Homo sapiens: one gene and its partners. The protein of the gene in region 1 binds, or shares a complex with, the protein of each later gene. Each region holds a gene or a part of one and is shown in the gene's direction. Other genes may lie near its edges. The genes, in order: SNRPG, PRPF3, SART1 and PRPF4.

Region 1 (7,564 bases):
CCCGTCTCTACTAAAAATACAAAAAAAGTTAGCCAGGCATGGTGGCGCATGCCTGTAATCCTAGCTACTCAGGAGGCTGAGGCAGGAGAATCACTTGAACCCGGGAGGTGGAGGTTGTGGTGAGCCGAGATTGTGCCATTGCACTCCAGCTTAGGCAACAAGAGCGAAACTCCGTCTCAAAAAAAAAAAAAGAATCAAGATGTTTGTACATCTTACAATAACCTCTAGGGACCTCTCATTTCCTGGAAGAATGTTCTGCCCAATTTATTCTGTCATTCACCTGCTTTCTAGTAATAGTTTGAGCCCTCCTGGTGCCATCTTCTGTTTGAGTCAAGACAGTCTTGGAAAGCCAAACACAGTGGCTCACACCTCTAATCCCAACACTTTGGGAAGCCAAGGAGGGAGGATCACTTGAGCCCAGGAGTTCAAGACCAGCCTGGGCAACATAGGGAGATCCCATCTCTACAAAAATAATTTTTAAGAAAGTATTAGCCAAGAGTGGTGGCGTGTGCCTGTGGTCCTAGCTACTTGAGAGCAGAGGTGGAAAGATAGCGTGAGCCTGGGACGTTGAGGCTGCAGTAAGCCATAATTGTGCCACTGCAGCGCAGCGCTCCAGCCTGGGCAACAGAGTGAGACTCTGCTCAAAAAAAAAAAAAAAAAAAAAAACTTGGCCAATCACACTACCATGTCCCTTTAATTGACCAAGATAATACATATTAAACCTGTAGCACAGGGCCTAACACATAATGAGCACGCAGTAAATGGAGGCCTTACTCTCAGCTTTTTCTACGTTCTTCCTTCTTGCCACAGGACCGCCTGGCCCGGTGCACCATGCATTGCAACGACAAAGCCAAAGATTCAATAGATGCTGGGAGTAAGGAGCTTCAGGTGAAGCAGCAGCTGGACAGTTGTGTGACCAAGTGTGTGGATGACCACATGCACCTCATCCCAACTATGACCAAGAAGATGAAGGAGGCTCTCTTATCAATTGGAAAATAAAAGTATTTGCCAGTGGCCATCAGGGCTGAGGGCAAGAATATATTTTTTATAAGGAATTGGGAATTTTAGTCTTTTAAGCAAAGTTTACGAATGAAGAAATGAAGGATGGCCACAAGCGTAAGGCATATGTCACTTGCCTCTGGACACTGGTTATTTTATGTTTCAGTCCCTAAAAAATGAAATGGAAAAAAGTGGTGCTAAATCGAGTCAGAGATATTACAGGAGAGTTTTAGAGCTTATTATTTCCTGTGGCCAGTGCTTGTCCTGGCAGTAAGGCTTTCCCCTGTAACAAGCCAGAGCCCTCCAAGGTACCAGACTCTTCTTACTACACAGGTACTAACAGGCTGGCAGGTTAGAGTTGGTGGAGTCTGAGGAGAGATATTTTCTCTTTGTTGCCAACATCCTGTTTACCAAAAGTGTCACCCCACCATCTTCCATAAGCTGTGAAACAAAATCAATGAGGTCACTAACTTAGAAGGGAAAGAAAGTTTTCTGGGTCTTTGTTTTCTTGATTTGGGGTAATTTATACAAGGGCATACAAGTTGATTTTAAGATGTGGAACTGGGAGGTAGACTAGTTTGGATAAGAACTTTGAAATGTTCCTTGTGGATCCCCATTTCTGGTCATCAAGATGTGGATGTACATTTCTTAAAATTATTACATGCTGCATCTTTCAGCCTGGAGACTGTGCAGAAACATGAGAGGTGATGACACACTAATTATGGGAAGCAGAATTACTGGCTGATGGCCCCTGAGGCTGTGTGTAACAAAATGACAGGACAATCTTGCAGTAACACTTTCCCCTTGAAGAGAAGGGGGTTTTGATTGTGATATATACTAGTATCTAGGAATGAACAGTAAAAGAGGAGCAGTTGGCTACTTGATTACAACAGAGTAAATGAAGTACTGGATTTGGGAAAACCTGGTTTTATTAGAACATATGGAATGAAAGCCTACACCTAGCATTGCCTACTTAGCCCCCTGAATTAACAGAGCCCAATTGAGACAAACCCCTGGCAACAGGAAATTCAAGGGAGAAAAAGTAAGCAACTTGGGCTAGGATGAGCTGACTCCCTTAGAGCAAAGGAGAGACAGCCCCCATTACCAAATACCATTTTTGCCTGGGGCTTGTGCAGCTGGCAGTGTTCCTGCCCCAGCATGGCACCTTATTGTTTTGATAGCAACTTCGTTGAATTTTCACCAACTTATTACTTGAAATTATAATATAGCCTGTCCGTTTGCTGTTTCCAGGCTGTGATATATTTTCCTAGTGGTTTGACTTTAAAAATAAATAAGGTTTAATTTTCTCCCCACTATTGAGTCTTCTTTCCTTATATCTGGGTGGTGAATATGTAACTTTCTCAGGATGCTTCTCCTTTTAACAGGTTAAATGAGTTAAAATGTCCAGAAGAGTGGAAATTAGTTGTTATGGTTCAGATGCAGAACTGGTTCACTGTAAATGGGAAAAACTTTGAGAGGAGACTAGGACATTGTGACTTGAAGTTCATTAATGTAGAAAAGAAACTGTCTATGAGGCTAAAAAGAGAAATTCATTATCTATGTCAGGTCTCTAGCTTCAACTAAACACTAATAGCAAGTGGTAGTAAAGGTACAAAGCTATGACCCTGCTAGAAAAAATTCAGTGTCTAGGATTTTGAGTACTAAGAGAGTGCAAAATATGTGATGAGTTTAAGTCTTTACTATCATTGATATTTATATAGAGCCATTCCAGAATATCAGGAATTAACTGAATTTTTGAGAACTATCCCCTATTTAAACACAAGGTATTCTATTTTGGTTTAGTCTTCTATAATTTTGGGGTAACAACTGGGAACAAGTCCGAGACCACTTTTTACACATCTTGACATGAAAAAAGAACACCTTATATTAGAAAATGTTTGTGTGCTGCACTTCACATTTTATATACAGGGGCAATAGCACATCAGTGAGTTCTGGAGGTAGTGTTTGAAAAATTTCAGAATTCCCAGGCATGCTGGCTAACCCCTGTAATCTCAGCACTTTGGGAGCCGGAGGCAGGCAGATCTCTTGAGGCCAGGAATTTGAGAACAGCCTGGGCAACAAAGCAAGACCTCGTCTCTACAAAAAAAAATTAGCTGGGTGCAGTGGCGTGCGCCTGTAGTCTCAACAACTCAGGAGGCTGAGGTGGAAGGATTGCTTGAGGCCAGGAGTTCGAGGTTGCAGTGAGCCATGATCACACCATGCTCCCCAGCCTAGGCGACAGAGCAAGAACTCATCTCAAAAAAAATTTTTTTTGCAAGACCCCTCAGTCAGAAATAGATTCAAATTCTTGGAGACAGACCCAGTCACCTTACTCTACAATGGTTCAGAGGCTGCTAATTTACATGTTACGGGAACCCTACTTGGTCTGACAGTATGCTGTAGGGTTACCTGCCAAAAAAATATAGAGGCCCAGCCGGGAGCGGGGGCTCACGCCTGTAATCCCAGCACTTTGGGAGGCCGAGGCCAGCGGATCACGAGGTCAGGAGATCAAGACCATCCTGGCTAACACAGTGAAATACGGTGTCTACTAAAAATACAAAAAATCAGCCCGGCGTGGTGGCGGGCACCTGTTGTCCCAGCTACTCGGGAGGCTGAGGCAGGAGAATGGCGTGAACCCGGGAGGCAGAGCTTGCAGTGAGCCGAGATCGCGCCACTGCACTCCAGCCTGGGCGACAGAGCAAGACTCCGTCTCAAAAAAATATACATATATAGAGAGAGGCCCATTCCTCCAGGGATCATTATCATTTGGTATATTGGTATATATGAAGAAAATAAGCGATACGATCCACAGACATGCGGGATTGGCCGGGTTTGCCCAGGAGCTAGAGACGGGACCGTTATCTCAATATCTCAATTTTATTTTTTAAATAGAGAAGGGGTCTCGCTATGTTGCACAGGCTGGTCTCGAACTCCTGGGCTCAAGAGATCCAAAGTTCTGGGATTTACGGCGCCCGGCTTTTTTTATTTATTTATTTATTTTTATTTATTTTGGCTGTTCCATAGACAAGAGCAGGGATAACCGGCTGGGCGCGGTAGCTCACGCCTGTAATCCTAGCACTTTGGGAGGCCGAGGCGGGCGGATAACGAGGTCAGGAGATCGAGACCATCCTGGCTAACACGGCGAAACCCCGTCTCTACTAAAAAATACACAAAATTAGCCGGGCATGGTGGCGGGCGCCTGTAGTCCCAGCTATTCGGGTGGCTGAGGCAGGAGAATGGCGTGAGGCCGGGAGGCGGAGCTTGCAGTGAGCCGAGATCGCGCCACTGCACTCCAGCCTGGGCGACAGAGCTAGACTCCGTCTCAAAAAGAAAAGAAAAAGAGCAGGGATACCCACCGGTGGAATACCCGTTATCTCAATTTTGTACAAGGAAAACGGAATTCAGAAAGGTGCCTAGAGGACGCACCCCTCCGTCCTGGCCAATCGCTGAGGACATAACCGGAAGCTCAACGATGACCGAGGCGCTGAGATATCGCGAGGTGAAATGTAAAAACTGCCAACAATCCATTGGCTAACGAGGTCGATGACGCCAGACGCAAGACGCCGGGCCTACAGCGGGAGCGTGAGGAAAGCCGTGCGTTGCGTTCCAAGGCATCTGTGAGCCCGCGGAGTATACACCATGAGCAAAGCTCACCCTCCCGAGTTGAAAAAGTAAGTATGTGTGAGAGCCAAACCGAAGTGGTCAGTTATTTGCGTCCTGCGAGTCCCTTGGTTCCCTCTCCGTTAGCCGAATGTCTTGAGCCGCTTCACTTCATTTCTTCTTCCGGTCCGAGGTCGCCGGGATCCCGGCCAGGCTCCCGCGCATGAGACGTGAAGCCCGCGCAGAGCTCGCGCGTCGGTGTGGTTACAGCCGGCAGCCACGGCACCTCCTTCCGGCCGACTAGTCTCCAGGTCCCGCGGTCTGGCCCCTGGTCACCCGGCGCTGTCCCTCGTTCCTTGAAGATCTCCAGTGCTACCTTTTGTTGAACATCTCGAATAGTATCATGTTCTAGATAGACGGCTAGAGGGGGAAATTCTCTGAAGGAACTAAGGAGGGGCTGGAAGGGAAGGAAGTGTTTTTAAAACTACGTGAGGCATCAGAATCCGAAAGCCACTTTAGTCTTAGCAAATGTGTTTGTAGGTGTTTGAGCTTTTACTTAGAAACCTCATTCCTTTTTCTTGCCTTCTTTTACGTTAAGCTTGAATGTCATGTGTTATCTTGCTCTGATGTTGAAACTATATAAGAACATTCATTTTTCTTTTTTTTTAAGAACATTAATTTTTTCTAGTCAGAGAAGGCTAATTTTTTGAAGTTTTTTCTACACACCCAGTAAAGTCAAACAACTTTAAGTAGGAGAGCCTTACTTTAGGTAGGACTCAACGTAAAGCTTTGAATTCCTCAAATACTTTTTGAGTGGACTTAACAGGTTATGTGTTTCCTGACTACGTTTCTGTTTTGCTTATACTTCCTGATGCTGGAATTCTACATGTATTAGTTGGATTGCACAAAGGATGCAAAATTTTTACAGGGATCAGTTTTTTCTGGCGTAGCATGTGGTTGGCTTTGTGTATAGTTAGTTCATTTATTACCAGGCCCATGGAAGTCAGACAAAAGGTAAAGTTCCTATTTAATAATTTTGCGGCCGGGCACAGTGGCTCACGCCTGTAATCCCAGCACTTTGGGAGGCTGAGGCGGGAGGATCACCTGAGGTCAGGAGTTCGAGACCAGCCTGGCCAACATGGTGAAACCCCCGTCTCTACTAAAAATACAAAAAATTAGCCAGGCAGGTGGTGTGCGCCTGTAGTCTCAGCTATTCCGGAGGTTGAGGCAGGAGAATCGCTTGAACCCGGGAAGCGGAGGTTGCAGTGAGTCAAGATCGCGCCATTGCCCTCCAGCCTGGGTAACAAGACCGAAACTCTGTTTCAAAAAATAATAATATTTTTGCATTTAAAGGTCCATTTGTATCAAAGCCATCTTTTGTATGAAAACTACTTCTATGTATATTTTAGTTAGGTCTGTTAAGGAATTAATTATTAAAACATAAGCCCAACGCGGTGGCTCACGCCTGTAATCCCAGCACTTTGGGAGGCCGAGGCGGGCGGATCACGAGGTCAGGAGATGGAGATCATCATGGCTAAAACGGTGAAACCCCGTGTCTATAAAAATACAAAAAATTACGTGGGCTTGGTGGCGGGCGCTTGTAGTCCCAGCTACTCGGGAGGCTGAGGCAGGAGAATGGCGTGAACCCGGGAGGCGGAGCTTGCAGTGAGCCGAGATCGCGCCACTGCACTCCAGCCTGGGCAACAGAGCGAGACTCCGTCTCAAAAAAAAAAAAAAAAATAGAAGTTACTCAGAAATTATTGTGAAAATTACTCTTTTTATCTGAAAGTTATTTTTGGTGATGTAAGTATCCTCTGGATTCATCAGGGACTGGTGAAATGGTGATTTTTTTTTTTTTAACAAAAAGACCATTCTCTACTTGTAATCTAAGATTTTCTTTCTGATTCATAACATAGTTTTTGAAAATTTCAGAGAAGGAAGCTAGTTTTAATACCTTTCTCTTCCTCGTAGGTTTCATGAATTGTGAAATCCGGTCAGATCTGCCGCCAAAATGACTTAAAAATTTTTTCTTCCTCTGCTTTCTCACAGATAGCATCTTCTTTTACACCATTATGCCCTCCTTCTGGTGTAGCATAACTCAGGTGTTCTTAAATGGGGAGTAGGGAATCTGGTGCTACCGGCTTCTAGTGAGTAGACACCAGGGTGCTGCTAAACATCCTACTGCTTATTCGACTGCCCCCAACAATACAAAATTAACTGGTCCCAAATGTCAGTAGTATAGAAGTTGAGATACACTGGCTTAACTGAATTCTTCCTTCCACTTCTTAAAATTTGCTGCCACGGTAGTCTTGCCAGTGACTGCTTTAATAATTTATCACAGTATGCAAAATCGAGTCTGTACTTAACCCAGCATTCAAGCACCAAACCTTCTAGCTGCTAATACTCAGGTATTCCGTTCTCCAGTCACACTGAACTATTTGTGTTTGCTCTCACTTGCTGTGTGACTTTGAAAAATTGCTTTAGCTTTTCCAAGCCTAGTTCTCCATCTGTAAAAACGGTGGAAATGATAGACCATAATTGCAAAGTCGTTGTAAAGATTGTATAAGATCTTGTGTGTTATATTTGATACGTTTTATGTATCTTATTAAAATATAGTTTACTTCATATATGTGTGTGTGTGTGTGTGTGTGTGTGTGTGTGTGTGTGTGTGTGTTTTGAGATGGAGTTTCACTCTTATTGCCCAGGCTGGAGTGCAGTGGCGCGATCTTGGCTCACCGCAACCTGTGCCTCCCGGGTTCAAGCGATTCTCCTGCCTCAGCCTCCCGAGTAGCTGGGATTACAAGCATGCACCAACACACCCGACTAATTTTTTTTTTTTTTTTTTTTTTTTTTTTTTTTTTTTTTAGTAGAGACGGGTTTTCTCCATGTTGATCAGGCTGGTCTCGAACTCCCGACCTCAGGTGATCCGCCCGCCTTGGCCTCCCAAAGTGCTGGGATTACAAGC
Region 2 (7,022 bases), on another chromosome or scaffold:
TGTATTTTTAGTAGAGATGGGGTTTCACCATGTTGGCCAGGCTGGTCTTAAACTCCTGACCTCGTGATCTGCCCACTTTGGCCTCCCAAAGTGCTGGGATTACAGGCATGAGCCACCGCACCCAGCCAAGTAATCCTATATTATAAGAGTCTAAGGGTCTAGAGGACAAAAAGTCTGTAGGTCTTTACATTGTCAAGAACAATGAGATTGTAAGTATTTTTGGATGATAGTAAATACCTCTCCCTGACTCTTAGAGTAAACTTTGGTTAGTAATGTAATGGTTAATGTAAAGTGCTAGACTTTGAAGAAATGTAAGAGTGTGGAAATATTTCTAGACTCATCAACTCTACCTTTTAAGCATTCATCTATTTGTTTACTCCAGAGGCCTTTGTTTATAGAGAGGAAACCATTTTGGATTCATCTTTTTACTTGCCACTCCATTCAGGCAGCTGCTGATGCTAAAATGGAAGACATAACTAAACTTTCCCTTCTCCAGAGTTCGAAATTTGAGCAACCCAGCCAAGAAGTTCAAGATTGAAGCCAATGCTGGGCAACTGTACCTGACAGGGGTGGTGGTACTGCACAAGGATGTCAACGTGGTAGTAGTGGAAGGGGGTGAGTCTGAAAAACTTGAGGGAGACTGTCCCCAGACAACCCTAGGCTTAGAGTGATTAGCATTGTGGGGAGAAAGGAGAAAAAGATCGTATTTTAGTGCCATACCTGATATAATATGCTAGGTCTCTGCTTCTGTGTTTTTTGGAGTAGAAGGCCCTAAGATGTGGTTCCTGAGATTGCTTCAACTACCACATTAATGTCTGAGCTCAGAGGTTCTTTCTACCCCATCATCTTCCACAGTTCTGGCAAAATTATTCTTCTCTGTTTCCAGGCCCCAAGGCCCAGAAGAAATTTAAGCGTCTTATGCTGCATCGGATAAAGTGGGATGAACAGACATCTAACACAAAGGGAGATGGTGAATGGGGGTTAGAGGGGATTAAGGGGGAGAGCTATGGGAGGTGGGGATGGTGCATCTGTCCGTTCATCTTATTTCCTCCCTGTGACACTCTTGATAACACTAGATAGTGTTCAGGAATTTTAGAAAGACCCGTTTAGACTTTGAGCCTCCTAGACATTCATACAATATTTACTACATGATTATATGCATGAATGGTAAAGCTATTTTTTTGCCTATCATTTAAGGCTTTTCTACCAGCTGGTTTCTGTGTCTGTCCTGGATCTGAGTACCGGTTACATGAATTTATTCAGTATTTGAAAATTCAGCAAGCAGCTAGGCATGGTGGCTCATGCCTGTAATCCTAGCACTTTGGGAGGCTGAGGCGGGCAGATTGCCTGAGGCCAGGAGTTCGAGACCAGCCTGGGCAAACAACGTGGTGAAACCCCATATCTACAAAAAGTACAAAAATTAGCTGGATGTGGTGGCACACACCTGTATTCCCAGCTACTCAGGAAGCTGAGGTGGGAGGATCACTTGAGCTTGGGGAGGTCGAGGCTGCAGTAAGCTGTGATCGTGCCACTGCAATCCAGCCTGGGTGACAGAATGAGACCCTGTCTCAAAAAAAAGAAAAAGCAAATCTAGTAAGCTATACATTCATGTGTACAGTGTCTATATTATATTATTATTTGATTTTTTTTTTTTTAAGGATTGAAGCCAAAAAGATCTTCAGGTCAAAAAAGCTCTGCTTTGATCAAACTATTTCTTTTGTCTGATATATATATATACACACATACACATACATACACACACACACACATACATACACACATGTACACACACATACACATACACACAATACACACACATACATGTACATGTACATACTCACACATATGCTCTTCAACTTAATGATGGGGTTAGTTCCAATAAACCTGAGATAAATTGAAAATATTGTTAAGTCAAAAATGCATTTAAGGCCAGGCACGGTGGCTCACACTTATAATCTGAGCACTTTGGGAGGCCGAGGCGAGCAGATCATTTGAGGTCAGGAGTTCGTAACAGCCTGGCCAACATGGTGAAACCCCGTCTCTACTGAAAACACAAAAATTCGGGGCGTGGTGGTGGACCTCTGTAATCCCAGCTACTCGGGAGGCTGAGGCAGGAGAATCGCTTGAACCTGGCAGGCGGAGGTTGCAGTAAGCTGTGATCGCACCACTGCACTGCAGCCTAAGCGACAGAGCAAGACTCCATCTCAAAAAAAAAAAAATGCATTTAATACATCTGACCTACAGGACATCATAACAGCCTAGCCTTCCTTATACTTTCTCAGAATACTTAGATTAGCCTACAGTTGGGCAAAATCATCTAACACAAAGCCTATTTTTATCTCATGTAAGAGTATTTTACTGCATATTGCTAGCCCAGGAAAATCTCAAAATTTAAAATTTGAAGTACATTTTCTACTAAATATTTATCACTTTCACACTATACTCAAGGCAAAAAATTGTAAGTCAAGGACTGTCTGTCTATATTTGAAGGCCAGACATTCTTCTGGCCATCATACTCCCATTAGTGTTCATTCTTCTCATCTTTGAACACCTGGATTAGCATTTAAAATCTGCAGAGAGGCCTGGTGTGATGGCTTATGCCTGTAATCCCAGCACTTTGGGAGGCCGAGGCGGGTGGATCACCTGAGGTCAGGAGTTTGAGACCAGCCTGACATGGTGAAACCCCGTCTCTACTAAAAAATACAAAAATGAGCTGGGCGTGGCAGCGTGCGCCTGTAATCCCAGCTACTCGGGAGGCCTAGGCAGGAGAATCACTTGAACCCAGGAAGCGGTTGCAGTGAGCTGAGATCATACCACTTCACTCCAGCCTGAGTGACAGAGCAAGACTCCGTCTCAAAAAAATAAAAATATAAATAAAATCTGCAGAGAGTTCATCTTAAGATACCTGAGAATAAAAAATATTTTGTTCTACACGTGCATTTTTTTTTTTTTTTTTTTGAGATGGAGTCTTTGCTCTTTTGCCCAGGCTGGAGTGCAGTGGCACCATCTTGGCTCACTGCAGCCTCCGCCTCCCAGGTTCAAGTGATTCTCCTGCCTCGGCCTCCTGATAAGCTCGGATTACAGGCACCTGCCACCACACCTGGCTAATTTTTGTATTTTTAGTAGAGATGAGGTTTCGCCATGTTGGCTAGGCTGGTCTCAAACTCTTGACCTCAGGTGATCCACTCACCTCAGCCTCCCAAAGCGCTAGGATTACAGGCGTGAGCCACCACGCTGGCCGATAATTTTGATTTGGTATATCTGCCCTCCTCCTCCATTGGGTGAAAGTTTTTTGAGAGTAATATATGATGTTGACATATGAAGCCTGCCTCCCAAAGTGCCTAGGACAAGTTTTTATTCTTGACTGCTTGTCTTTTATTTCCTTATTCCCAGTACCTGGTGGAGCTCTTGATTCATAACAAGTGCTATGTAAATGCTAATTGTATCAATTAATATTACTGCCTACTTGGAGCTTCAAGTCTAATTTGGGGAAAATAAAGAGCAACAGAAAAGAGAACACTTGGTCCAACACATAAAAAGGGTGATAATATTTTAGAGAGTTTGGGTAGACTTGAATATTATTTGTTTAGAACCTGAATCTCAAGTCTAAGTCTGTAACAAGATTTCTCTTCCAGATGATGAGGAGTCTGATGAGGAAGCTGTGAAGAAAACCAACAAATGTGTACTAGTCTGGGAGGTAGGTGATCCTTTGTAAAACATTGTAAAACTTTAGCCAACTCCTGAATATTTATACTATTTGAGTGGAGCAATGGAATGTAAGATGTAATCAGTGAATAATGTTTTAAATAATTTATGTTTCTTTTTGGAATCCATTTTTAAATGGTTGGCAGTAAATTCTTCCTGATCATCTGTTTAATTAAATTCGTGAGTATTTAGTATATGCTATCTGGGGAAGTGCGTGGACAGTGCTGCTGGTAGCAGGAATACAAATTCTCTACCGAAAATTATTTATTTCACAGTCATGAATATGAGACTTGGAAACGGGAATGAATTGTTGTTGGATTTACCTTTGGATATAGTGAAGGAAGTACTAGACTTAAGAATATAAAGTTAGGAGGCTGGGCAGTGCTGCTTATTAGCTGTGCAATCTGGGCAAGACACTTAATGTCAAATTCTGTTGCCTTAGCTATTGTTCTCTATATTGTCAAGTTTTTGAGAATGAAATTAGATAATTATGTGATAGTGCTTCATAAAATGTGACTGAATCACTCTTCAAGTGGAATATTTTTTATGGTTATCTAGTTCTTTAACCCCTGAAGCCTTCTTAGAGAACCAGTATTAAAACCAGTATTAATGTTTTCATGTTTGCTTTTAGGTATAGTACATGTATATCTTTTTTTGGGGGCGGGGGGGCGGGGGGCGGTATGGAGTTTCGCTCTTGTTGCTCTTGTTGCCCAGGCTGGAGTGCGATGGCGTGATCTCGGCTCACCGCAACCTCTACCTCCCAGGTTCAAACGATTCTCCTGCCTCAGCCTCCCAAGTAGCTGGGATTACAGGTGCACGCCACCATGCCCGACTAATTTTTGTATTTATAGTAGAGACAGGGTTTCTCCATGTTGGTCAGGCTGGTCTTGAACTCCCAACCTCAGGTGATCCGCCTGCCTCGGCCTCCCAAAGTGCTGGGATTACAGGCATGAGCCACTGTGCCCAGCCCCTCCATTTCTTTTTTTTTTTTTTTGAGAGAGTTTTGCCCTTGTTACCCAGGCTGGAGTGCAATGGTGCAATCTCAGCTCACCGCAACCACCGCCTCCTGGGTTCAAGTGATTCTCCTGCCTCGGCCTCCCGAGTAGCTGGAATTACAGGCATGAGCCACCACGCCTGGCTAATTTTGTATTTTTAGTAGAGACGGGGTTTCGCCATATTGGTCAAGCTGGTCTCGAACTCCTGACCTGAGGTCCGACTGCCTTGGCCTCCCAAAGTGCTGGGATTACAGGCATGAGTCACTGCGCCCGGCCATATATCTTCTATTTTTAAAATGTGCTTATTTCTAGTATATGTGCTGCTGAAGCGAGCAGTAAAATGTGCTTATTTCTATTAATGAATTCTTTATTATAAAAGTGGTACATTATTACAAAAGTAGTAAATGTTTATTAAGATTAGAAACAAATTCTAATTATACAGAAGAGTACTTACTGAGACCCAGCACAGTGGCTCACGCCTATAATCCCAGCACTTTGGGAGGATGAGGTGGTTGGATCACTTGAGCTCAGGAGTTCAAGACCAGCCTGGGCAATATGGCGAAACCCCGTCTCTACAAAAAATACAAAAATTAGCCTGGCCTGGTGGCGTCTGCCTGTAGTCCCAGCTACTTGAGAGGCTGAGGTGGGAAGATTGCTTCAGCTTTGGAGTTTGAAGCTGCAGTGAGCTGTGACTATGCCACTGCACTCCAGCCTGGGCACCAGAGTGAAACCCTGTCTTAAAAAAAAAAAAGAAAAAGTCTCAGGCCAGGTGCAGTGGCTCATGCCTATACTCCCAACACTTTGGGAGGCTGAGGTGGGCGGATTACGAGGTCAGGAATTCGAGACTAACCTGGCCAACATGGTGAAACCCAGTCTCTACTAAAAATACAAAAATTAGTGGGGCGTGGTGGCCAGTGCCTATAATCCCAGCTACTTGGGAGGCTGAGGCAGGAGAATCGCTTGAATCTGGGAAGCGGAGGTTGCAGTGAGCCGAGATCGCACCATTGCACTCCAGCCTGGGTGACAGTGCGAGACTGTGTCTCAAAACAAAAGTCTCTTCCTATTCGCTGATCTCTTCAGACCAGTCTTTATAGGTAATTGCTATTAATAGTTTTTCTTCTGAAGGAGCAATCAAAAAATAAAAATTAAAAAAAAAGGTTTTCATGTATCCTGCCTTATCCCAGATTCTTCAATTTATGCATACAAATTAGATGATAATAACCATAGTATTTGTTCTCTGTTTTATAAGTTCCCACCTGCATATTTGTTATCTTTTTTTAATCAACTTTTTTTTTTAGAGATAGGGTCTTGCTCTATTGCTCAGGCTGGTGTGCAGTGGCGCAGTCATAGCTCGCTACAGCCTTGAACTCCTAGGGACAAGCAATCCTCCAGTCTCAGCTTCTCAAGTATCTGAGACCTCAGGTCCACACCACTGTGCCTGGCTAATTTTTTTTTTTTTTTTTTTTTTTTTTAGAAATGGATCTCACTATGTTGCCTAGGCTTGTCTTGAACTCTTAGCCTTGAGTGATCCTCCCACCTCAGCCTCCCAAAGTGCTGGGATTATAGGCATGAGCTACTGTGCCCAGCCCTACCTTCACATATCTCAGCACCCTCATCTTTCAATTTTCTTCTATTTATCTCTGAAGAGTACTTACTGAAAAAGTCCCGGCTTCTTAGAGAACCAGTATTAATGTTGTAGGAATTTAGTTTTCAGGAATTGTCTCTCATGTTCAGAAATAAGCCAAGTTCTGCTCCAGCCTCCTTATTGGAGTCTACTCCCTGAACGCCTCTTGAGGTATTGCTTTATGACTGCCATTGCTGCTGGTAACTTTGGCAAGAATGCCATTCTGCCCAGTACTGTCTTTTTCTGTTGTAATTCTCTGCTGGTACCTGCTCTTCTTCTGTTCCCCGCCCCCAGTTGTTCTTTGTTGCTGGGCCCCAAAGCCTCCTGCTTATATAAATAGTTTCTGGGGCCTTTTTGAAGGCTCAGATTTAGTCCTTAAGGCCTGGTAGGAGATAAGTTTATCTCATTCCACCTTCCATAGTTCTTCCTGACTTGCTGTTCCACCCAGGCACCAGAGCAAATAATTCCTCACTTCATTTCAAAAAACTAAAAGCCTTATGCATATGAATTCGTAAAATCTCATACAAATATCCAAGGAGGCCGGGCGCGGTGGCTCACGCCTATAATCCCAGCACTTTGGGAGGCTGAGGCGGGAGGATCACGAGGTCAGGAGATCGAGACCATCCTGGCTAACACGGTGAAACCCCGTCTCTACTAGAAATACAAAAAATCAGCTGGGCGTGGTAGCGGGCGCCTGT
Region 3 (7,022 bases), on another chromosome or scaffold:
TGGGGCTCCGCCTGCTCTCTGAGTTGGAGCTGTGGCCGTCGCATACTCACTCTGGCTGTGAGTTGTTAGATGGACTGGAAGATGTGCACACTTGCTGCAGACTGCGCTGTGCGGGGGTGGGTTTCTTGTTTTTCTTTAAAGCACGATTTGAGGGGCTTTGGAAGCCACAGAGGGTCCTGTTGTGCTGCATGGGTTGGCCAGGAGTGTGGGGACGAAGTGGGAGCAGGGAGGTGAAGGATTGTTCCTTCCTGTCCTGACCCCTTCTGGCCCCCTGAGCTGGAAGGGGGCAGGGTGAGTGGCTCCCTCCTCTCCCCACCAGCCATGGGCGGGCATAGCCTCACGTCTGGGCCCCCCTTCCAGAGGCGGGCACCAAGGAGGAGCCCGTGACAGCTGATGTCATCAACCCTATGGCCTTGCGACAGCGAGAGGAGCTGCGGGAGAAGCTGGCGGCTGCCAAGGAGAAGCGCCTGCTGAACCAAAAGCTGGGGTGAGGGGTCCTGGCCAGGGCAGGCAAGGGAAGGGCTGGGGAGGCCACCATCCTTGGCTGCCTCTTGAGTGGGGTGGGGAGCAGGAGCTGGGCTCCTTGAGCATCACTTTTTCCCCTCTTCAGGAAGATAAAGACCCTAGGAGAGGATGACCCCTGGCTGGACGACACTGCAGCCTGGATCGAGAGGAGCCGGCAGCTGCAGAAGGAGAAGGACCTGGCAGAGAAGAGGGTGAGCACCTGGGCAGCATGGGGTGGTCGCCTAGTGCTTCTGGTGGCCTGACGGCACTGAGGCGGGGGCCAACCCCAGAGAGGTGAGACGGGGCTTGGAGAAGGGAAGGGCCGTGGTCGGTAGCATCTACTTTGGATTCTCAGCAGCTTTCCTGCAAGGCCTGCCCTTTTTGCACTCCGCTTGGTAGAGCCCTGAGTGTTTTCTGGTGATGCTGAGTGGCCTGAAGTCCTAGGTCACCCCTCCCTGTCCCGTAGGCCAAGTTACTGGAGGAGATGGACCAAGAGTTTGGTGTCAGCACTCTGGTGGAGGAGGAGTTCGGGCAGAGGCGGCAGGTGAGGCTGCAGCAGGGGTGGTACAGGGGACACTGGTGGCCTTGCTACCGGAATCCCGAGGTTGGGTGCGTGGAGGGAGGTTCCTGACTCGCCGATTCTTCCCTTAGGACCTGTACAGTGCCCGGGACCTGCAGGGCCTCACCGTGGAGCATGCCATTGATTCCTTCCGAGAAGGGGAGACAATGATTCTTACCCTCAAGGACAAAGGTAATGCGAGCTGGGTGCCCTGGGTGGGGGCACAGCCTCTGCTGAGTTGCGGACAAGTGTGAATGGCCACTGCTCTGTGCTGCCCCCAGGCGTGCTGCAGGAGGAGGAGGACGTGCTGGTGAACGTGAACCTGGTGGATAAGGAGCGGGCAGAGAAAAATGTGGAGCTGCGGAAGAAGAAGCCTGACTACCTGCCCTATGCCGAGGACGAGAGCGTGGACGACCTGGCGCAGGCACGGCCTGGGCAGGCTGGGTGGCGGGGGCTGAGGTGGAGAATGTCGGGAATGGGGGCTCTGAGGAGGTGGTGGCTCAGTGGCTTTTCAGGAGCCAGCCTGGGTCCCAACCTGTACCTCTTGCCTTGCAGCAAAAACCTCGCTCTATCCTGTCCAAGTATGACGAAGAGCTTGAAGGGGAGCGGCCACATTCCTTCCGCTTGGAGCAGGGCGGCACGGCTGATGGCCTGCGGGAGCGGGAGCTGGAGGAGATCCGGGCCAAGCTGCGGCTGCAGGCTCAGTCCCTGAGCACAGTGGGGCCCCGGCTGGCCTCCGAATACCTCACGCCTGAGGAGATGGTGAGCCCTCCCGTGCCTTATACTCGGGGTCAAGATTCTCCCTCCCTCTGGGGCTCCTGCCCTGCCCGCAGGCACTGAGAAGACAGGGCGAGTATTTGTGTTCACAAAGCGCTTGGCCTCGCGGGTGAGCACTAAATGGCAACCGGGGGAGGCACCAGGTGTGGATGGGTCAGGGCTGCTGAGCCAGATGGGCCCCAGTCTGTTTCGGCTCTGCCATGCTGCCAGCTCGTGCCTTGGATAAACCATTTAACTGTGAGCCTGGGGCACCCCATCTGGAATGGCAGTGACAGGAGCCGCCTCCTGAGGTTGCTGTGAGGATGAGTGACAGCGTGGGTGAGGGGTGACTGGAGAGGTGTGCGTGGATTCTGTCCACAGGGTGACTGTGTGAACGTGAGGTAGACAGCTGGCGCGGTAGGCGTCTTCCTCAGTGGGTAAGAGCAGGACTCTGGAGCCAGACTGCCCAGCTCTCCCACCTAGGAGCTGGGCAACCTTGGGGAAGGTACTTAACCTCCCTGTGCCCCAGTTTCCCTAGCTCACCAGTGGAATTGAGATAGTAACCACCCCACATGTTGCTCATGTGTGGGAAGCGCTCAGGACGCTGGCTAGCACAGAGGAACACCAAAGAAGTGTTCACCCTCGAGGGCTTGTGGCGACCTGCCTTTCTGTGGCCCCCGCTCCATGTCTCGCCCCTCTTCCCTTAAGGTGACCTTTAAAAAGACCAAGCGGAGGGTGAAGAAAATCCGCAAGAAGGAGAAGGAGGTAGTAGTGCGGGCAGATGACTTGCTGCCTCTCGGGGACCAGACTCAGGATGGGGACTTTGGTTCCAGGTGGGCTTGGACACGGTGGTGGGGCGAGATGGCTGGGCTGGGGTGGCCTGGGGACCGGTGCTCACCAGAGAGGCCTCCTTCCCTCAGACTGCGGGGACGGGGTCGCCGCCGAGTGTCCGAAGTGGAGGAGGAGAAGGAGCCTGTGCCTCAGCCCCTGCCGTCGGACGACACCCGAGTGGAGAACATGGACATCAGTGATGAGGGTGAGGGCCCGGCCAGGGGGTGGGAGGGGCAGGGACAGGAGCCGCGGGTTGGAGGAGATGGTCTGAGCAGGCATCCCCTGTGTTTCCCCCAGAGGAAGGTGGAGCTCCACCGCCGGGGTCCCCGCAGGTGCTGGAGGAGGACGAGGCGGAGCTGGAGCTGCAGAAGCAGCTGGAGAAGGGACGCCGGCTGCGACAGTTACAGCAGCTACAGCAGCTGCGAGACAGTGGCGAGAAGGTGAGGCTGGGCATGGGCAGGGTGACTGCGTCAGCAGTCACCTGTCCTCACGAGCACCTGTGTCATAGGCGACAGCCACATTCCTGTCTGAAGCCTCTTTTCCATTTGTTTTTTGTTTTCTGGGTTTGTTTTTTTTTTTTTTTTTTGAGACAGAGTTTCGCTCTTTCGCCCAGGCTGGAATGCAGTGGCGCAGCCTCAGCTCACTGCAACCTCCGCCTCCCAGGCTCAAGTGATTCTTATTCCTCAGCCTCCTGAGTAGCTGGGATTACAGGCGCACGCCACCAGACCCGGCTAATTTTTATATTTTTAGTAGAGACGGGGTTTCACTATGTTGGCCAGGCTGGTCTCCAACTCCTGACCTCATGATCTGCCTGCCTCTGCCTCCGAAAATGCTAAAATTACAGGTGTGTGCCACCGTGCCCAGCCCTCTATTCTGTTTAAAGTCATGTTTTGCAAAAATTTTTAGATGCCTGCTTTAGTAGGGGATCCTTTCCTTGCCTCTCTCTTCTGTGCATGTTTGTTGAATGCCTGCTGTGAGTAGTGCATTGTTCTTGGGCTGAGAAGGTCATTGGTGAACAGGATAGCCATGGGGCCCTGGGCTCATGGAGCTGGCTTTCTAGAGTGTGTGGGGGAGAGCGTGGGGAGCAGCAGTGACTGTTAATGCAGGAACGGTAATTTCTGATGGTGGTGGGAGCTGGGCACTCAGTAAACCAAGATAACGTGCCGGGGGTTGGGATCTTAGATGGGAGAGTGCAGGGAAGACCTTTCCAAGGTACTAGTTCATCTGAGACTTGAGTCACACAGAGGAGCCAGCCTTGCGGGGGGTTAGGGGTGGCAGCAGGTGGACAGGCTGGCATTTAGGCAGTAGACCAACCAGCAGGTGTCTCAGGAGAAGTGACCTTAGAGTGCCTGAGGGCCAGGGAGGCTGGAGCAGAGCAGAGAGTGAGGGGTGGCGTGAGCTGAGATGGAGAGGTAGGGGGCCAACGCAGGGGGAGCCTTGACCCCATGGTCGTCGCTGCCCCAGAGGCACAGTGGGCCGGGCACTGCTCACATGTTCTGTGTTTGTTGATTCATTCCATCCTCCCAGCAACACCCTATGAGGAAGGTTCTGTCATCTCCATCATTCCAGAGGCCACACTTTTAGCCCTACCCCACACTTCTCACCTAGGAAGAAGCCAAGAAAGCGTGTCCAGGAGAGGGAGCAAGGGAGGGAAGCTTCTGATACTACTGGGAGGCAAAGTGGGGACAGTTGCAGTGGATTCAGGACCCGGAGGACAGGGGAGTTGAAAAAGTGAGGGCTGAACCCGGGACGGAGGCCAGGCTTACTGTTGAAGGGCTGGAGAGGACGTATTTGAGGTTTAAGGGCATATGGTCTCTGTTAGGCACCTTGAATGCTGTGCTGTTATAGGGAAAACAGCCAAGACAGTCTGTAAGTGAGTGGGCGTGGCTGGGTTCCAGTAATACTTTATTTCTAAGAACAGGTGTTGGGACATAGTTTGCCCGGCTAAAAAGGAACAGAGAAATGGAGCAATAGGCTGACAGGGCTGTTTTATGACTGAAATGAACATAAGGGTTTCTAGCCCCGTGGATCTCAGCCTGCCTGCACATTAGACTCACCTAGGAGGTTGTTTTTGTTGTTGTTTTAAGAAACAAGGTCTCGCTCGGTTGCCCAGGCTGGAGTGCAGTAGTGCAATCATAGTTCACTGCAGCCTTGAACTCCTGGGCTCAAGGGATCCTCCTGCCTCAGGCTCTCAAGTAGCTGAGACTACAGGCGTGCGCCTGTGGGTCTCAGTGTGTTGCCCGGGCTGGTCTCAAATTCCTGAGCTCAAACGATCCTCTCGCCTCCACCTCCCAAAGTGCTGGGGTTACAGGCATGAGCCACCAGGCCTGGTGTAGCCTAGAAAGTTTTTGTTGTTGTTTGAGACGGAGTCTCGCTCTGTCACCAGGCTGGAGTGCAGTGGCGCGATCTCGGCTCACTGCAACCTCCATGTCCCGGGCTCAAGCAATTCTCCTGCCTCAGCCTCCTGAGTAGCTGGAACTACAGGTGCATGCCACCACGCCCAGCTGATTTTTGTATTTTTTAGAAGAAACAGGGTTTCACCGTGTTGGTCAGGCTGGTCTCAAACTCCTCACCTTGTGATCCACCCTCCTCAGCCTCCCAAAGTGCTGGAATTAGAGGCATGAACCACCACACCCGGCCACCTAGAAGGTTTTTTAAACATATGAGCCACACCCCACACACTGTGCAGGCAAAAAAGTGGAAAGCCTATCACAGTGAACACCTTTGTCCTCTAGAGTCAGTAATTATAAACATTGTTACAGTTCTTTTCTTTCTCTTCTTTTTTTCCTGACCACTGGGAGTTGCAGATATCATGACACTGCATCCTTAACGACTTCAGTAGGCATCTGGCGAAATCAGGGCCTTCTCCCGCATAGCCACACTGCCCTAACAAGCCCATAAATGCTGTAAAACAGCAGCTCGCATGCCAACATTTTCCAGTTATCCCCCAAAATGTCTTTTTAGTTTTTTGTTGTAAGCAGCATCCAATCAAGTTTCCCACCCGCAAAGGAGCCTTTTCTGACTACCGGAGATTCTAGAGTATGTGGGAGACACATTTATGACGGAAGAAGAAAAAGATCTCGGCAGGCGGTGCTGGGGCCTAGAGTGCAAGTGGAGGGTGGGCTTGAGTGAAGCCAGCTCGTGTCATCATTTATTTCAGGAGGGAAGGTGGGGAGGGCACAGCAGCTGTGGGTGACCTTGTTTAGGGGAAGTCAAGGCAGCCCATGGCCGATTGTTCTGGTGTTTTTCCAGTGAAGAGGTGGCAGAGGTGGTGGTGCAAAGAGATGGGAGATGCTGTTCTGGAGAGTGGAGAGCAGATACACCCTGGGAGAAGAGCAGGCCTGCCAGTGGCAGTGTGGATGGTGGGATTCATGAGCTGAGGAGGGGGATGGTGGAATTCATGAGCTGCTGAGGGAGGGGGATGGTGGGATTCATGAGCTGAGGAGGGGGATGGTGGGATTCATGAGCTGAGGAGGGGGATGGTGGGATTCATGAGCTGCTGAGGAGGGGGATGGTGGGATTCAGGAGCTGAGGAGGGGGATGGTGGGATTCATGAGCTGAGGAGGGGGATGGTGGGATTCATGAGCTGAGGAGGGGGATGGTGGGATTCATGAGCTGCTGAGGAGGGGGATGGTGGGATTCATGAGGTGCTGAGGAGGGGGGTGGTGGGATTCAGGAGCTGAGGAGGGGGATGGTGGGATTCATGAGCTGAGGAGGGGGATGGTGGGATTCATGAGCTGCTGAGGAGGGGGATGGGATTCATGAGCTGCTGAGGAGGGGGATGGTGGGATTCAGAAGCTGAGGAGGGGGATGGTGGGATTCATGAGCTGCTGAGGAGGGGGATGGTGGGATTCATGAGCTGAGGAGGGGGATGGTGGGATTCATGAGCTGAGGAGGGGGATGGTGGGATTCATGAGCTGCTGAGGAGGGGGATGGTGGGATTCAGGAGCTGCTGAGGAGGGGGATGGTGGGATTCATGAGCTGAGGAGGGGGATGGTGGGATTCATGAGCTGCTGAGGAGGGGGATGGTGGGATTCATGAGCTGCTGAGGAGGGGGATGGTGGGATTCATGAGCTGCTGAGGAGGGGGATGGTGGGATTCATGAGCTGAGGAGGGGGATGGTGGGATTCATGAGCTGAGGAGGGGGATGGTGGGATTCATGAGCTGAGGAGGGGGATGGTGGGATTCATGAGCTGCTGAAGAGGGGGATGGTGGGATTCAGGAGCTGCTGAGGAGGGGGATGGTGGGATTCAGGAGCTGAGGAGGGGGATGGTGGGATTAATGCCCTGAAGCAGTGGATGGTGGGATTGAGGATTGGGTTTTCTAGGGAGGAGGGACAAGGCAGTTAAGGGTTTCACAAAGGAGAGGTTCT
Region 4 (7,022 bases), on another chromosome or scaffold:
TACAGGTGTGAGCCACAGCGCCTGGCCCAAAAAATTTTTAAAAATTTATTTAATTTTTTAAAACGTTAGCCAGGTGTGGTGGCATGCGCCTGTTAGTCCCAGCTACTCAGGAGGCTGGGTGATAGAATTGCTTGAGCCTGGGAGGTTGAGGCTGCAGTGAACTGTGATCACACTACTGCACTCCAGCCTAGGTGACAGAGTGACACTGTTTCTCAAAAAAAAAATTTAAATACTTTGTAATCAGCAAAATACTATTCATATTTAAGGACAGTATCACTATTAATATTCGTATTATTGGATAGTTTAATTTGCCCCACCTTCCCTCACAAGTGGATCCAAAAGTTAAGGAGAATGGCTACTGGTGTAGTGTTAATTATAGTCCAGTAAAAGCCTCTGGTTGCGTGTGGGCTGGAGGTAGCTTTTTCTTCTATAACCCTTCTAACTATAAGGCTTTTATTTTTCTGTCAGCCATTGTAAAGTTTATTGGGGGTGAGAAGAGATTGTCCTTTAGTAATATTACCAAGGTACCTTTTCCTTCCCAGACCAACCCTGGCTGAGATGCTTTCCTTTGTATTTGATAGGAGTGGGCTTTGCAAGCTCTGGTCTGTTCCTGATTGCAACCTCCTTCACACTCTTCGAGGTAAGTTAGAGTCTTATCCAAATCTCGGTCTTTTTCCCAGTGTGAACTCAGTTAAGCCTTAAACTCTGCTTGACACTCAGACCCCATACACACAGCATTAATCCTTGATTTGATTTGACTTGGTTTTCTCTGGCTGCAAGACTGGACTATCACAACTTCCTACACATCCACTTTTCTCTCATGTGCAGTCACACTCTGGCATTTTATAATCTCTAAACCAAAAACCAAAATGGGTTTTTTTGTGTTTTGCTTTTTTAAAAATGTAATTTAAATATTAGCTTAAATTAAAATAGTTCATGTTTTAATAGTTGAATAGTCACTTGAATACTCTGTATGTCCACATGTTCCCTAGTATATAACATGGGTTATAAAGAGGCAGGAACCTTTTAACTTGCATCTCTTACACTCCTTTAGGGCATAACACAAATGTAGGAGCAATTGTATTCCATCCCAAATCCACTGTCTCCTTGGACCCAAAAGATGTCAACCTGGCCTCTTGTGCGGCTGATGGCTCTGTGAAGCTTTGGAGTCTCGACAGGTGAATATCACTGTTCTGTGGCCCATACTGCCATCACTAAAGTAGATGTTTGATTGGTTGGTCCCCAGGACCTCAGTAAAAATCTGGCATTTAGGCCATGCGCAGTGGCTCACACCTTAAGGCTGAGGCAGGAGAATTGCTTAAACCCGGGAAATGGAGGTTGTGGTGAGCCGAGATTGCACACTGCACTCCAGCTTGGGTGACAGAGCAAGACTCCGTCTTGAAAGAACAAAAAAAAAAATCTGGCATTTAACCCCCAAGATGGTTTAAGAGTCAAGGTAACCTAGTGTGAAAATGAAGTAAGTGGAAGATTTCATTCTTAGGCCTTTTCTTACTAAAGGAGTTATGTCCGTTTTTTCTTACCTGTTAACTTTGGATCTTGATTTTTGTCTATAGCCTAGTGACCACTATTTCCTAGCTCCATTTATTCCAGAAAGATCCAGCCTACCTCCTACATGATAAATTAACAATGAACTAAATATAATATTCTTGGCAGTTCGTTGGTTCTTAGCAAACAGCCACAGGGGAGAGGAAAGTGAGGTTCTGTCTAGCAGTATTACCACGGAGATGTCTCCTCGCAATAGCATCATCCTTTACCTAGAATGTATTTTCCAACTACAACAGTTTTTAAAAATGTGTTTATGTGATTGTTTTCCAAAAAAAAAAAAACTTCGGAAGCACCCTGTTGGCCAAAAGGCATCTGAATTTAATTGTTTAGTTTTCTTTCTTTGGGAAAACACATGAAGGTTTTTACTTGAGAATTTTTATGAGAGCTAATTAATGTCTTCACTCCTCACCAGACAGGGTCTCACTTAGGAGCGCAGTGAGTTTTAATTGGCTTTGGTAATACTTAGCAATGTTTATTCCCCTTGGGCTTTGGCTTGTTCTGTGTATGCACATTGACAAAGTTCCCTTTTTAATTGCGTTCCTTAGAGTTCATGTTTATTTCCTTTTGCTGATGTTCAGATCTTTTGGTGGTTGCTGGGTAGCAGAATTTAATGGCCACCAAAAGGAGACTAAGCCTCATCTCTATTTAGGAGTTCCTTTTTCATTTGGATCTTGGAACAGGCCTAAATTTGAAAAAGGTTTATCTGTAATCCACTTGTACCAAAACTATGTGATTTCTGTGTCCTTATATCTCTTCCAAAGCATGTTTTCTTTCTAGAATCCAGGTACTCCTTTGGTGCAGAATGACTATTTTGCTTATTGGGCCAAAGTAGTTTACAAGTGTAGTTACAATTTAGCCTCTCGTGTTGTACAGAATGGGTATGTCTGCACAGAAGGTAAGCAGTTTTGTGACTATTTATATGTCTATAAAATTGTTTATATGTTTGGTTCCTTTCCAGTGATGAACCAGTGGCAGATATTGAAGGCCATACAGTGCGTGTGGCGCGGGTAATGTGGCATCCTTCAGGACGTTTCCTGGGCACCACCTGGTGAGCCATCCTGTTATTGTTTTATCCATATAGGCCTGTAGCATCTTCTTAACCCTTTATGGCTATCTGCCAGGTAAATTTTTAGAGCAGAGATCTTCAGGTAGGATTTTCTTGGGCTGCAGGGAATTGGAATCAGAGGAGAATGTTTAATATAGTGAGAGCTAAGTATATTTGCCTTTTTTTTTTTTTTGAGGTGGAGTCTCACTCTGTCACCCAGGCTGGAGTGCAGTGGCGCGATCTCGGCTCACTGCAACCGCCGTCTCCCGGGTTCAAGCAATTCTCCTGCCTCGACCTCCCGAGTAGCTGGGACTACAGGCGCGTGCCACCATGCCCAGCTAATTTTTTTATTTTTAGTAGAGACAGGGTTTCACCATGTTGGCCAGGCTGGTCTTAAACTCCTGACCTCAGGTGATCTTCCCGCCTCAGCCTCCCAAAGTGCTGGGATTATAGATAACAGGTAACGCGCCCAGCCATATTTGCCTTTAAATTACAATTAATCTGAAATTTCAGAGTTACAAATTACCAGAAAACAAGGATTTTCACTCTTGTCCAATGCTACAGGTATATAAGTCTCCCTTCCTGGTTCTGTAAGTTCAGGGAGGCTAGAATCTGTTAGAGAACTTTTCCATTAAGTTATAATTTACATACAATGGAATGGATTTATTTTAAGTGTACAATGCTGTCAGTCTTTACAAACGCGTACCATTCCTGTGATCGACACCTCTGTCAATATAGAGAATAGTCCATCACCCCAGAAAGGTCCCTCATGCCCTTTTCCAGCCAACTCCCCCTTCTAAAGCAACTGCTGATCTGACTTCTATCACCACAAATTAATTATGTCTATTCATACTGTGAATTCATTTGTGGCAGGCTTCTTTCAGCATAACATTGTTAAGAGTCATTCATGTTGTTGCATGTATCAGTAATTCCTTTTTATTGCTGGGGGTTATTCATTTTTATGACTGTGCCATAGTTTATCCATTCTCCTGTTGATGGACACTTGGGCTGTTTCCAGGTCTGGGCCAGTCAGAATGAAGCTGCTATAAATATTCTTGTACCAGGCTTTTTGTGGACATGAGTACAATTGCTGGGTCATAGGGTAGAGGTATGAGATGTATATTTAACTTTTTCTAAACTCCCCACCAGTTTTCCAAAGCGGTTACACCATTTTACATTCCCGGAGTTCTGGTTACTTCACATCCCTGTTAACATTTGGTGTTGTCAGTCTTACCATTTTGCCCAATCTAGCAGGTGTGTAGTGATCTCCCGTGATTTTCATTCTTATTACCCTGATCATTATTGCTCTTGAGTGCTCTGTCATATGCTTTGCCTGGTTTTTTAAATTGTGTTTGTCTCTTTTGTCTTTATTTCCATGTGCATAGTCAGTTATACCACCTTGTATTGAAGAGACTTTCCTTTCTCTGTTGGAATTGTTTCAGTACCCTTGTTGAAAATCATCTGACCATATATGTGTGGTTATTTCTGTACTTCCTATTCTCTTCCATTGATCTATTTGTGTATGAGTGATTTTTGTATCCCCAACATCCAATTTAGGGCCTAGTAAATGTATAAATGCTTGATGAATGAAAGAATATAACAGTGGAGGAAGAAAGAAGGTAACAGAGTCTTTGCTGGGCCATTCTTGGGGAATCCTGTTATTACAATAGCCACTAGGTTGGGCATGGTGGCTCACACCTATAATCCCAGCACTTTGGAAGACCACGGTGGGTGGATCACCTGAGCTCAGGAGTTCGAGACCAGCCTGGCCAACATAGTGAAGCCCCATCTCTATGAAAAATACAAAAATTAGCTGGGCATGGTGGCGCACACCTGTAGTCCCAGCTACTCAGAAGGCTGAGGCAGGAGAATGGCTTGAACCCGGGAGGTGGAGGTTGCAGTGAGCCAAGATTGCGCCACTGTGCTCCAGGCTGGGCAACAGAGTGAGACTCTGTCTCAAAAGAAGAAAAAAAAAAAAGCCCTAGAGGTTTACAGCGATTCCATGGTTTTCAGCTAGCACCTAAGGCAGATAAGCTTAGTTGTTGAGTCATTGTTTATGTCAGAAAGGAGCTTCCTGTTAATATGGTTATATGAATAGTTTCAGAAGCATTAATAACTTAAGCTATAATGGCTTAGAATACTTTATGTGTTGTAGAAACTGAATAAATATCAGCTGGTTGATTGTTAGTGTGATTTGGTTTTAGCTATGACCGTTCATGGCGCTTATGGGATTTGGAGGCTCAAGAGGAGATCCTGCATCAGGAAGGCCATAGCATGGGTGTGTATGACATTGCCTTCCATCAAGATGGCTCTTTGGCTGGCACTGGGTAAGGCTTCTCCCATGTAGTCAGGGGCAGTTCAGTACTCTCACCTCTTACCTATACCTGCTTCCACAGAGAACTGGATTCAAAGTGTTCATTTCTAAATTATTTTCTCAGGGGACTGGATGCATTTGGTCGAGTTTGGGACCTACGCACAGGACGTTGTATCATGTTCTTAGAAGGCCACCTGAAAGAAATCTATGGAATAAATTTCTCCCCCAATGGGTAAAATAAACACACTGAATGAGGGGCGAAAAAGGGTTCTGGGTCAGTAAGTACTCTATTTCTAACTTCAATACTGCATCCAATCCACAGCTATCACATTGCAACCGGCAGTGGTGACAACACCTGCAAAGTGTGGGACCTCCGACAGCGGCGTTGCGTCTACACCATCCCTGCTCATCAGAACTTAGTGACTGGTGTCAAGTTTGAGCGTAAGCTTTCCTCCTATTTTACGTCTAAATGACACAGACAAACAGTATTGTGTTCCCGTGGAATGCAGGCCAGGCTTTAGCTTAACTGAGCAGTAAAACAGGAGAGAAATTGACCTACTGGTAAAGGAGCAAATTATAATTTCCTTCCCTCTGCCATACCCTTAGATCTGTGGGAAAGCACGCTTCTCGTTGCAGGAAGTAAAGCAGACTTTCATGAGTGCTTTGCTTCATTCTTTCCTCCATGGATGCTCTGAGCACTGAGTCCTTAATATTATTCTGAATAGATTCTCGGTCAGGGAATGAGCCAAAAGACCTTACTGTTATTTGTTCCCTTAAGTCTGTAGAAACAAGTTTTTTTAAAAATAGTATGTTTTTGCAGACTTTTGTGCTTTTGTCTTCTCTTTTGAATACTTGAATTCCTCAAGCAATTCCCCTTCTCTTCTCCTGTAGCTATCCATGGGAACTTCTTGCTTACTGGTGCCTATGATAACACAGCCAAGATCTGGACGCACCCAGGCTGGTCCCCGCTGAAGACTCTGGCTGGCCACGAAGGCAAAGTGATGGGCCTAGATATTTCTTCCGATGGGCAGCTCATAGCCACTTGCTCATATGACAGGACCTTCAAGCTGTGGATGGCTGAATAGATGACAATGGGAAAAGGACTTGAACCTCAAGCTCTCTCTAAGGAGCTGTTTTCCTCAAACGAGAAGAATTGAAGTGTTTAGTTCTATCATGTTTTCTGCCAATTACCATGCATAGACCCTCAGTAGAATTGGATTTCCATGTCAGCCCCCACTCCAGGAAGGCAGCCCAATCCCTAGGTGATGGGGAACCCCTCTCACGGTTGAAAATTTATTACCTTTTTACGCCCTGCCACGAACTGTGTAGACATTGTTTTTATTAATCTTTTGTTTGGCCGGGCGTGGTGGCTCACGCCTGTAATCCTAGCACTTTGGGAGGCCGAGGTGGGTAGATCGCTTGAGCTCAGGAGTTCAAGACGAGCCTGGGCAACATGGCAAATGCCGTCTCTGCAAAAAAATACTAAAATTAGCTGGTCGCGGTGGCTTCTGCCTGTGATTCCGGCTACTTGGGAGGCTGAGGTGGGAGGGATTGCTTAAGCCTGGGAGGCAGAGGTTGCAGTGAGCCGAGATTGCGCCATTGCACTCTAGCCTGTGTGACAGAGCAAGACCCTGTCTCAAAAAAAAAAAAAATTTGTTCGAATGCCTTATAGCCTTCCTCACAGCACCCAGGATTGTGACTGACTCTGCATTTTTAATTCTTGAAACTTGGCTTTCCATAACATGGTACATGCTTCAGGACTACATATGACCCAGAGAGCAAGGTGGCTGAACTATAGTCTGGAAGCCCTCAGGTAAAGAGGCACATCTCACCACTCATTGGTTAAACAATGCATCATAGCGAGCACTTTTCCTTTCCCTGGAGAATGGGATGTGAAGCAGTAGACCGCAGCCACGCCGATGGTTATACAGTGAAGAAGACTTCACCTCTTCCTATTGAGTTTGCTTGGAATGCTGACAGCATCAGGCAACTCTGAACTGAACATTTGCTTTGTCAGAAAATATCTTTTTTTTTACTTTGAAGTTTGGCAACCTTCATGTTACCCCAAAGCAAAACCATTGTGTCAGGAGTCAAACA

What was found.
Region 2: SNRPG (region 1) and PRPF3 share a complex: the UniProt entries of both Homo sapiens proteins name them as parts of the U4/U6-U5 tri-snRNP complex.
Region 3: SNRPG (region 1) and SART1 share a complex: the UniProt entries of both Homo sapiens proteins name them as parts of the U4/U6-U5 tri-snRNP complex.
Region 4: SNRPG (region 1) and PRPF4 share a complex: the UniProt entries of both Homo sapiens proteins name them as parts of the U4/U6-U5 tri-snRNP complex.

Annotation. Positions count from the first base shown.
Region 1 is NC_000002.12:70,290,724-70,298,287, reverse strand, and holds the start of SNRPG (small nuclear ribonucleoprotein G), read left to right. Parts: upstream 1-4,547; 5' UTR 4,548-4,638; coding exon 4,639-4,670; intron 4,671-4,829; exon of another isoform or gene 4,830-5,127; coding exon of another isoform or gene 5,128-5,135; exon of another isoform or gene 5,136-5,613; intron 5,614-6,978; exon of another isoform or gene 6,979-7,007; intron 7,008-7,564. Other genes in the region: protein FAM136A, read left to right, coding at 811-999. UniProt on the Homo sapiens protein: Plays a role in pre-mRNA splicing as a core component of the spliceosomal U1, U2, U4 and U5 small nuclear ribonucleoproteins (snRNPs), the building blocks of the spliceosome.
Region 2 is NC_000001.11:150,345,522-150,352,543, forward strand, and holds part of PRPF3 (U4/U6 small nuclear ribonucleoprotein Prp3), read left to right. Parts: intron 1-496; coding exon 497-615; intron 616-886; coding exon 887-970; exon of another isoform or gene 971-980; intron 981-3,635; coding exon 3,636-3,697; intron 3,698-7,022. UniProt on the Homo sapiens protein: Plays a role in pre-mRNA splicing as component of the U4/U6-U5 tri-snRNP complex that is involved in spliceosome assembly, and as component of the precatalytic spliceosome (spliceosome B complex).
Region 3 is NC_000011.10:65,964,732-65,971,753, forward strand, and holds part of SART1 (U4/U6.U5 tri-snRNP-associated protein 1), read left to right. Parts: intron 1-360; coding exon 361-487; intron 488-610; coding exon 611-716; intron 717-970; coding exon 971-1,048; intron 1,049-1,155; coding exon 1,156-1,255; intron 1,256-1,344; coding exon 1,345-1,487; intron 1,488-1,618; coding exon 1,619-1,825; intron 1,826-2,527; coding exon 2,528-2,652; intron 2,653-2,739; coding exon 2,740-2,855; intron 2,856-2,947; coding exon 2,948-3,090; intron 3,091-7,022. UniProt on the Homo sapiens protein: Plays a role in mRNA splicing as a component of the U4/U6-U5 tri-snRNP, one of the building blocks of the spliceosome. May also bind to DNA.
Region 4 is NC_000009.12:113,285,651-113,292,672, forward strand, and holds part of PRPF4 (U4/U6 small nuclear ribonucleoprotein Prp4), read left to right. Parts: intron 1-542; exon of another isoform or gene 543-558; coding exon of another isoform or gene 559-581; coding exon 582-640; intron 641-1,054; coding exon 1,055-1,178; intron 1,179-2,524; coding exon 2,525-2,614; intron 2,615-4,815; coding exon 4,816-4,938; intron 4,939-5,049; coding exon 5,050-5,157; intron 5,158-5,247; coding exon 5,248-5,366; intron 5,367-5,816; coding exon 5,817-6,010; 3' UTR 6,011-7,022. UniProt on the Homo sapiens protein: Plays a role in pre-mRNA splicing as component of the U4/U6-U5 tri-snRNP complex that is involved in spliceosome assembly, and as component of the precatalytic spliceosome (spliceosome B complex).